2 linked regions of the Homo sapiens genome follow. The protein of the gene in region 2 purifies or fractionates together with the protein of the main gene of each other region. This does not show direct contact. Each region holds a gene or a part of one and is shown on either strand. Other genes may lie near its edges.

Region 1 (4,952 bases), on a different chromosome or scaffold from region 2:
CATTTTAAAAGTAGGTAATGTCAAACACAAAACTGTGATACCGGCTCTAACCTTGTAATTCTCTATCTTGCCTCTACCAGAAGCCAATACTCTAACTCCGAGAAGCCATGTTTTTTCCCTACCAGTTTCCACACAGAAAATACTGAACCAGTGTTACTGCTCAAATGATCATATCACAGGAGTTACACAATGAAAAGCAAATCCTGCTATCCCATAGAGACACTGACTTTTACAACAGTATCCAAGGTATGAAGTAGAAGTCATGATTACTGTGTAACTATAAAAAGGGCAATTCCAAACCTAGGGTACATATTCAATACTGGTATATTCACTGGTGCAGTCAAAAGAAATTGATTTTGTTCCACAAGCTGACAGTAATGATTCTTACCCTCCAATTCCAAATGCGTTTGAGCCTGTTGGGAGTTTTCTCCAAAATCTGTAGAAACTCATGTGTCAGTTCTACAAGTAAAACAGAACATTCAAGAAAGACTGAGAGAAACAGAAGTAATGAAACAAGAATAACCTGAACTACTAACTAACTATTTTCATCTGAATCAAGTCACCTTTGGCCAGCTATGTGACAGATCAACAGCAAGTGCTTTTCAAGGTCCCTTACTCTAAAACTTACCATCTAAAAGTTCCAAGGTCACAGTGGCGTCAACATACTCCCACCAGTGCTTCCCGTCAGTTGAGACTGGGATCTCCCAATTGGACCACTTGCAAGCCAGGTGAATGCAGACACAGGCCACCACAGGAGGTGTGTACTGCAGGCTAAATGTGGTCAAATGCAGGCTGACATCAGAGGGAAGAAAACAGAGAGTGTCATGAGCTCTCAATTCTCAGCCCAAAGCTAAAACTCTCCATTATTTAAAAAAAAAAAAAAAAAAAAAAAAAAAGGCTTAAAAATAGACAGGAGAGTAAGAAGGGTAAGAAATATGCAATGCTCTGATCTAGCACTCAATATAATTTCCTATTAACCCACCTGTTCAGGTAACAACATTTTAAAAACTCTTGAATTACACATCACTTAATCTACACATTGACCAGAGCCAAAAAAAAAAAAAAGGAAAAAAGGAAAAAGGCTGGGAATTCAAGTTCTTTAAAACATTGACTTCTGGGCCAGTATTCAAGCCTAGAAGTCAATATTTATTACCTATTATCCTGAGACTAAGCTCAGATCCTAAGGAAAATTGTAAGCTTTTTGGTCTGTGTAATCCGTAAATCAAAAACTTAAGGAAATATCTTAAAAATAATTTGTCTCTCACCAATCATAGTTCTGGTCTATTTAAAATAATAAACAGACAACTACTCTCTCAAGTATAAATATGTTGGTTTATTTCAAAACTTTTTCGTAACAGGCTATAAAAATGAACTTCTTAGCCCTGACAGTTACTAGGGATATCATTGGTTTCCATTAACTAACAATGTTGGGCAAGTCATTTGGTAATACAAGTTATGTACTAATCATTTACTTTTTTTAGACAGAGTCTCTCTCTCTGTCACCCAGGCTGCAGTGCAGTGGGGCAATCTCGGCTCACAGCACCCTCTGCCTCCTGGGTTCAAGCAATTCTCGTGCCTCAGCCTCCCGAGTAGCTGGTACTACATGCATGTGCCACCTTGCCCTGCCAATTTTCGTATTTTTTAGTAAAGATGTGGTTTCACCATGTTGGCCAGGTTGGTCTCGAACTCCTAGCCTCAAGTGATCCACCAGCCTCAGCCTGGGATTACAGGTATGAGCCACTGTGCCCAGTCTCATTTACTTTTTTTAAAAAGGGAAGAAGGAAAAAGACTGAAACTCTTAACATCCATAAGTGCCCATTGATTGATAGAGGGGGAAGAAAAAGGAATATTTTAAAATATAATTATTGGCCAGGCACAGTGGTTTACACCTGTAATCCCAGCACTTTGGGAAGCCAAGGCAGGCGGATCACTTGAGGCCAGGAGTTTGAGACCAGCCTAGTCAACATAGCGAAACCCCATCTCTACTGAAAATACAAAAAAATTAGCGGGGCATGGTGGCGCCAGTCTATAATCCCAGCTTAGTGAAGAGGCTGAGGCCGGAGAATCACTTGAACCCGGGAGGCAGAGGTTGCAGTGAGCCAAGATCGCACCACTTCAGTCCAGCCTGGTAGACAGAGTGAGACTCTGTCTTAAAAAAAAAAAAATATATATATATATATATATATATGCCTGTAATCCCAGCACTTTGGGAGGCTGAGGTGGGCAGATCACGAGGTCAGGAGATCGAGACCATCCTGGTTAACAAGGTAAAACCCCATCTCTACTAAAAACACAAAAATTAGCTGGGCGTGGTGGCGGGTACCTGTAGTCCTAGCTACTCGGGAGGCTGAGGCAGGAGAATGGTGTAAACCTGGAAGGTGGAGCTTGCAGTGAGCTGATATTGTGCCACTGCACTCCAGCCTGGGCAACAGAGCAAGACTCTGTCTCAAAAAATAATAATAATAATTTAAAAAAAAAAAAAAAAATATATATATATATATATATATACACATATAATTATTGCAGAATACTCCAAATTAGATTTTCAGTCACTATCATGCAGAACTGAGTAGGTTATCAAAAAAATCAGTACTAAATAATTACATAACCTTAGAAAATTAAAAAGTACCATGGAAATTTAAAGTACAACATGAAAACTGTGCAGAAAAATCAACATTCACCAGAGAATTATCTATAGCACACTGTATCAAACTCAAGTAAAGTCCTATACCAAAAATCGAAGAGAAAAAAAAATTAAAATATAAACCTGTTGGTTGCCATGAAGTAAGAAGTCTGTGCTAAGTCCTTGCTTGCTAAAGAAAAAAAAAAAAAGTCAGGGGTGGGGGAGGAAAAAAGTTATTAGTTCCATTCATTCTCAACAAATATTTAGTAAGCATTTAATATTTGCAAGGTACTGTGAATATAGTGGCAAATGAGACACACATGGTCCCTGTAAACCTGACGTTTACATTCTGCCAAAGTAGACAGATCAATGATTTTTAATTTTAACATTAATAACTATGCTGCTTCCAGATCTAGGTACTCAAGCTTTATTCTGCACACCACATATCTGAGGTACTTGTTTAAATGCAATTCTTGGACCTGCTCCCTAAAATTTAATTAAATGTTTGGAGAAGGGTGCAAGCATTTTTTAACAAGTAACCCAGAGATTCTGATGTAAGGATTCACTGAGAATCACTAAACTACAGGATGAACTAAGATGATCTAGAAGCAAGATCAGAATCTAGAAGACTTTGACATATTTGGGAAAAGTGACTTTTGCTGTTAAGAAAGTTTTTAATTAAGGCTGGGCACGGTGGCTCACGCCTGTAATCCCAGCACTTTGGGACGCCGAGGTGGGCGGATCACCTGAGGTCCAGAGTTCAAGACCAGCCTGACCAACATGGAGAAACCCCGTCTCTACTAAAAATAAAAAATTAGCTGGGGTGGTGGCGCATGCCTGTAATCCCAGCTACTCGGAAGACTGAGGCAGGAGAATCGCTTGAACCCGGGAGGCGGAGGTTGTGGTGAGCTGAGATCGTGCTACTGCACTCCACCCTGGGCAACAAGAGCAAAACTCCGTCTCAAAAAAAAAAAAAAGTTTTTAATTAAGTAGCCCTAATTAAGATTTAATTAATTAATCCCCAAATCATCAAATAATGTAATATATTACAATGAAAAAATTTAACTTCTTCCAAAACAAACTGTTCTGGGTGACAAAGCAAATTTTTATCTTCCTCAGGACATAGTCTTCTCAATATTAACATACACCCATCTCTAGTCTTATCCTTGTGCAATATAACATTTTAATACTTTCAAATATAAAGAACTCAGGAAAATTTGGGAATTTTCACAGGAAACACATATTAGTAAAATGTAAAATAAGACCAATTATCAGTTTGGCCTAAAAATCATAAAAGGCACTTAAAGGCACAATAGTGTTCAGATATTCTTGATACTAAACTAAATAAGAGAGTTTCATTCAATTATACCTAATATTGTTAAATTAGAATTAAAAAGAAAAGTTCTGCCAAGGGATTGTATATCATGGAAAGTCCAAATAAATTCTGTATGATCCTCTAGGTGGCCTTTAATCAACCCCAGAATTAAAATAAGATCACCCACTCCTCACAACTTTCATAAAATTTCTGTTAAATAACTTCACAAACTGCCCAACTTTGACAAACATTCTCAAGAGGTTAGTTCTCTTTAACTAGAGATCATCTAAAAATATTACTTGTAAGAACCCAACAGAAAAACATCAAGTCAGAACAACTCATTTTGATTTAAGCCAAGTAGGCCTTTAAATTTAGCCAAAGCAGAACTATTATGTATTGTCCACCACAAACCACAACCTCTAAATGGGAAAACAGCTTGAGATAGTCTTCATAAGCTGGGATTCCTTACCTCGAACAAGTTGAGTGCACTTTACTACATGAGTATGTGGGTGATCAATTGTTAGTTCAAAGCCTTAAAAGAAAAAGTAATGGATTAAAAAACTATTAAGAAGTTTACATTTTACAAATTATTGTAAAAGGATAACTGATTGTAAATTACACCTTACTGGTTTCCACACTAAAATATTAATAGAAATTTATTCCACCAGAAAAACATCATTGTCCCATGAAATATAATTTGAAGATATTTTAAGAAAAAAGTTAACTAGAGGCTGGGCGCGGTGGATCAAGCCTGTAATCCCAGCACTTTGGGAGGCCGAGGCGAGCGGATCACAAGGTCAGGAGATCAAGACCATCCTGGCTAACACGGTGAAACCCTATCTCTACTAAAAATACAAAAATTTAGCTGGGCGTGGTGGCGGGCGCCTGTAGTCCCAGCTACTCTGGAGGCTGAGGCAGGAGAATGGCGTGCACCCAGGAGGCGGAGGTTGCAATGAGCCAAGATTGTGCCACTGCACTCCAGCCTGGGCGACAAAGCAAGACTCCGTCTCAAAA
Region 2 (5,479 bases):
TTTTTTACATTTTTCTAATTAAAAGTGCAGTATTGGCATAAGAATGTACAAAAAGGTTATTAGAACAGAGTTGGGAGCATAGAGACAGATCTACATCTATATAAGAACTTAGTATATGAAAATTGATCAACTGTTGGAAAAAAGAACATTACATCCTATAGCAAGACAGATTCTTAGTGGAAAAAATAAATAAATTTTAAAAAATCCTGCATGTAGAATAAAATATGATGATTGTTGTGACCTATGGATAAAAATGCCTTTCTAGTTATAAAACCAAAAGGAGAACCATAAAGAAAAAGATTTACAAATTTACTTAAAATATTTAAACTTCAAACTTCAATGTGATAAACACAAAATGCAAAATCAAACAAACCATGAAAAAGCATATGATATGAAGTAATACTAGAAAAAGGGTTAATATCCTTATATATTTTTAAAGTCTTGAAAATCAATAAGAAAGAGACAGAATACCCCTGATATAATATGGGCAAAAAAACACAAAAGGAAAACCATAAAATAAAATAAACATATAAAATATTCACCCTCATGGATAATAAGATAAACACAAATTTTATAAAATAATGGGAGGTTAAAGCAACCAAGGATATTTCACATATTTTTCATGGTTTTCTGGAATGGATGCTTAAGGAGGTATAAGTAGGCACACCTTTTGTGGGATGCCTTTTGCAAATATATATCATAAGACTTAAAATATCCACATCTCTGCCTCTTAATCAGGAAATGATCAGAGAGGTGTGCAAAGATTTTATACAATTATGGGCATGACATTAACACAAAAAACTTAAAACAGGCCAAATGTCCAATGAGAGTAATAGTTTTAAATTTTATGATAAATTTCTACTGGGTGCCTACTATGTGTAAAAACCAGTGTCAGACGCTCAAATCATTTATAGAATCATGGACTATCATGATATCATTAAAAATAATGTTTTTGAAGAATGTTTAATAATATTGGAAAATGTGCACTATAAAATATTGTGTGAAAAAAAGGAAAGATCCCAAACTGTATATAAAGCAAGATTCAAAAGATTTAAAGGAAATATACCAAATGGTAACTGTGTAGATGGAAATACAGGTGATTTTATCTTTCTCTTCTATTTTTCTTGTATTTCATTAATCTAAGTAAAACTGTTAAATAATTTAATCTTTATTAAAGAAAATATCAATTATATATAAGATGTAACGTCAAGATAAAAGCATATGTTTGTATCTACTTAAGAAAAATTGTAATAAATTAGGCTAATCTATCATATATATATATATTATATATTTTCATTAAACAGATAGGTGTTGAGTGCCTCTGCTATCACCAGTTACTGTTTTAGAGCCTACAGATTCTGGTATACTGCAGTGAACAAGGGAGGAAATAATTCGCTTTGCATTTCAGCAGGGGTTGGGGGTGGGGTGATGGGAAAAGGGAGAGTTTACATTCATGCTCTTTCCCTTTATAAAGAAATGGCAGCAATGTGTGTGTGTCGGGGGCGGTGGGTGGAGGTTGAGGACGCTGCTGTTACTGTGCAGTCTTGTGAATATGCAATAGGAAACCCAATCCTTAATTTTGACATTGCTTTTTGCTGTAATGTGGGCATGCTCAGCCAAATAAATAACCAAACATGAGACCAAGTCTAGAAACACACTTTTGCTCATATGGCACAGAACATAACTGCTATCCTGGTGTTTAGGGACCAGTGCACCAGTGAAGGTCTATGCTCAGAATTCTGGGCAACATATACTGCTGAAGGAACAGAGCTCAGAGGCTTGGACCGGCTGATCTTATTTTCAGAAACCAATAAATGGAGCTCTTAATTTTTAATAACTGATTTTACAGTCATCTGATGTCTAAGGTCACTTAGGATACAGGACTTATTCATCTATCTGTTTATTGGTTCTTAAATATCAATTAATTTCCTTAATGGTAGGATGCTGGGAAAGGAAGATGGGGAGGGTGGTCCTTAATTGCATTTGTTTATCACTTTTTATAATCAAAGTTATAGCGAGCTTAGAGTAAAAATAAAAAAAAGTTTTTTGAAGCATAAAATGGCAAATATTAGGAGTTTCATTGTATTAGGAGCGCACACAAAGTACATACAAGTGAAATCTTGGAACAGTTCTTATAACAAACATCCAGGCAGTAGACAAACTAGAGATTTCTGGAAATAGGCAGAAAAATAATAACTGCCGGGTTCTAACTTGAAGAAACTCTGATTCACATTAACTACCAAGAGAAACCACACTCGACCAGTTCCTTAAGACACGGGACCCCACAACAAGAAGCTGGTGCTCTGCAACCAGTTGAGAAGTACAGGACAGCTGCTGAGCTATTTCAAAGACAGTCATATCTGTGTGGCACACTCTCCCAGAAGGTTACAGGGCAACTTTCCAGCCACTTACATTCACTGATGATTTCCAGGGAGGGTAGGAAGTATTCATCACAGACAATAGATATGGCCATGAACATGTAAACGATAATTAGGAAATAGATTATGATGCCTCCATCTCTGCGCTCCTGTCTCGTGAAAAACCCTTCGGGAAACTCCGATGATGGAGAAATAACACATTGGGTGCTATTTCCTGTTAAGGAAAAGGAGGTGAAAGTTTGAAGAGTTTGGAGTCACACATTCCAAGCCCACAGAGAGCTTCCTTAAGAAATCTGTAAGTGTGGGGTAACCGGGTGGAATTTTAAGGACCCACTGAAAATGTATAAAGCGCTTCTGAATATAACACAGTTGTAGAGTTTTCAAAAAATTTTTTTGGGGGACTGAAAAGAGATATCTTAATGAAATATGTTGATGATGGTGAAGAATTAAAAAGAGGAAATCATGAAATCACTCCTCCTTGTTTTTATTTCTGAATCTCTCTTCCCCAAGTAGAAACTGTATCTCTGATACATGAAGATTTCTATTGTTTATACAATTTCGTTTTCTCATTGCAGAGCCTAAATTGTTCACAGGCCTGCAAAGAATCCATCCACTGTTGCAGAGAGAATTTCTAAGATGAAAGATTTTTTGTTTTCACCAAAAAGTCTCCAAGAACAAAAACTGGAGACTTGGCCTACTATGATCTCTGTGAATTACTTTGGAGTATATTTAAGAACTTATTTGAAGGATCAAAAGTGTTTGATATCTTTTTAAATGCTAAAATTCAGAAGCGTAAGTAAAAGTGAGCCCATTGAGAATTTTCCTCTTTTTGTCCCTTCATCTGTATGTGGTAGCAGCAGCAGCAGCTGCTGCTGCAGAGCTAACTGACCCCAATGTCCACCTACCTGTGGCCCTTGGGAGACGTTGGGGCAGGGAGGTCCCTGAGAGAGGCAGATGTGCAGTGGCCCACAGGATGCCGAGCAACAGAGCCCTTCTCGCCCATGTTTGGCCCCCTTTTGTCTGCATTTCTGCTGTGCTCTTACTGCAGCGTGCAGCTTCAGGAAGGGAGAAGAGGAGGATTAAACTGGATCATGTGAGGAGTCTCCTTCCTGCCCAATACCCTGCCCAGGGCACATCTCAGCAAGGCCAGCACAGGAGAAAGGGCGAGTGTAGCCAGTCAAGCTTCTCTGATCAGGAGACCCAATCTCCAGGGAGGCCGGAGGAGACGGAGGAGAGCTGACAACCATTGTCTATAGCTATTTCCATGGCCTACAGTCTCTAAGGGCAGATTAAGGCAGCTTGTACTTTATGAAAATGTGTGGTTTTATTTAATGTCTTCATACTGGCTCTGCTTTTGACTTTCTCTAGATTTGTAAAAAGTTGGGTTTGCAACTGCTTCCCATCTCTCTCCAGCCCTTTCCCCTAGAAGTTGTTTGGGTTGATATTAATATATGTACATGCTTTGGCTAGCTCGGCATCCTTTCATATTTCTGTTTTAGCCTCTCATCTTCATCTTCAGTTAGGGCCAAAGGGAGAAAGGCCAGTTAGGGCATCATTGCAATCGTCTAGCTGAGAAATGATAGTGGCTTGAACCAAGGCTGTGGCAACGGGGATGGAGAGTAGCTGACAGTTTCAAGAATTATTGAGATGGAGTGGATGCTATTTGATCATTGATAGGCTGTGCTTTCTGCCAGAGGGAGCTATCTAAAATGCAAATTTGACGTACAAGGTAGTGTTTAAATATAGACTACTATCTTCCCTATGCTAACATTTATGAGGCTTGCCAAGATATTTAGAACTTTTGGCAGTGTAGTAACCTATAGCTAATAGCACAGGCTATGGAACCAGACCACATGATTTGAGCCCTAGCACTGCTACTTACTAGTTATGTGACTTTTGGCATGTTATTTAACCTTTCTGCTACACAGTTCTGCTATCTGTAAAACAGGGATCACCTGTATTTGGGTTGTGGTAAGAATTACAAAAATGAACGCAAATAATTTGCTCAGAACGACCTCTGGCTGACGTCTTCATTCCTTCCTTTCTTTTTCTTTGTTTTGTTTGTTTTCCTTCCTTCCTCCCTTCCTTCCTTCCTTCCTTCCTTCCTTTCTTCTCCTCCTCCTCTTTCTCTCCTTCCTTCCTTCCCTCCTTCCTTCCTTTCCTTCGTTCCTTCTTTCTTTCTTCCTTTCTTTTCTTTTCTTTTTCTTTCTTTCTTTCTTTCTTTCTTTCTTTCTTTCTTTCTTTTTCTTTCTCTTTCTTTCTTTCAATTGAAATAGAAGCGTTTTTGTTCATAAAAATTTTTGTAGTTTTGCAACTTTCATGGTTCCTTTGCTTTGCAGAAAAAACACAAAAATTGATATGCCTAGTAAGTTTTCTATTTAGAAACTAGCTTTATCTGATGGAACGGAGTAAGTTGCTTCCTGATGTTTGTGATCTTGGGTCGGAAGAAAGTCTCAAAAACTACTTTTTTTTGTGGGAATTGGTATCCATTATAAACCTCTCCAAAACTGTCATTTCTAGGAACTAGATATTCAGATGTATGGTGTGATTGTGAGGCTGTGATGATGAGTCACCAAAGCATAGCCCAGTATAGAGCAGATTCTCAACAAGCAGAGTTCCAGCTGTCTACACTCGCAGGAAGCAGCACCCTGATCACTGGGGAGTGGCCTACATGCCAGCTAGCTAAGACTAAGGGAAGAGGTCGTTTAGTTTTATGCTGAGTGGAAGTGTCTTGCGAGCCTCTCCTCTTCAACACACAGTACTTCAATCAATTCATAAAACATCATAAACAAATAAAATACCAATAATATAAAAAGCTCAAACCCAAAGTGAAAGCTTCCAATGCACATTGTCAGCTAATTCAAGAGAGAGAGCAAGTGTCTGAAGGTACGAGCCAATTGCTATGGAACAGCAGAAGTGCCTTGCACATAGTTAGTACTCCATCAACATTTGCAGATCGATTACTTTGCAATGAATGGTCTTGAAAACACATTGCCAGAACATGCATATGCTTGGTCTAAACAAATTACCATCTAAATATGGATTTACCACGAAAAGAGATTTTAGGAGATGAATTAGATTTGCTTCACACACATTCTTCA

The links. Proteins that work in one complex are often made in the same cells at the same time.
Region 1: the proteins of SLC24A5 (region 2) and CCNT1 purify together in Homo sapiens (affinity purification with mass spectrometry; one large-scale study listed by BioGRID and IntAct). This does not show direct contact.

Annotation. Positions count from the first base shown.
Region 1 is NC_000012.12:48,695,371-48,700,322, forward strand, and holds part of CCNT1 (cyclin-T1), read right to left. Parts: intron 4,471-4,952; coding exon 4,408-4,470; intron 2,814-4,407; coding exon 2,768-2,813; intron 869-2,767; exon of another isoform or gene 793-868; coding exon 629-792; intron 460-628; coding exon 389-459; intron 1-388. UniProt on the Homo sapiens protein: Regulatory subunit of the cyclin-dependent kinase pair (CDK9/cyclin-T1) complex, also called positive transcription elongation factor B (P-TEFb), which facilitates the transition from abortive to productive elongation by phosphorylating the CTD (C-terminal domain) of the large subunit of RNA polymerase II (RNA Pol II).
Region 2 is NC_000015.10:48,118,970-48,124,448, reverse strand, and holds the start of SLC24A5 (sodium/potassium/calcium exchanger 5 precursor), read right to left. Parts: upstream 3,460-5,479; 5' UTR 3,405-3,459; coding exon 3,284-3,404; intron 2,593-3,283; coding exon 2,413-2,592; intron 1-2,412. UniProt on the Homo sapiens protein: Calcium, potassium:sodium antiporter that transports 1 Ca(2+) and 1 K(+) to the melanosome in exchange for 4 cytoplasmic Na(+). Involved in pigmentation, possibly by participating in ion transport in melanosomes.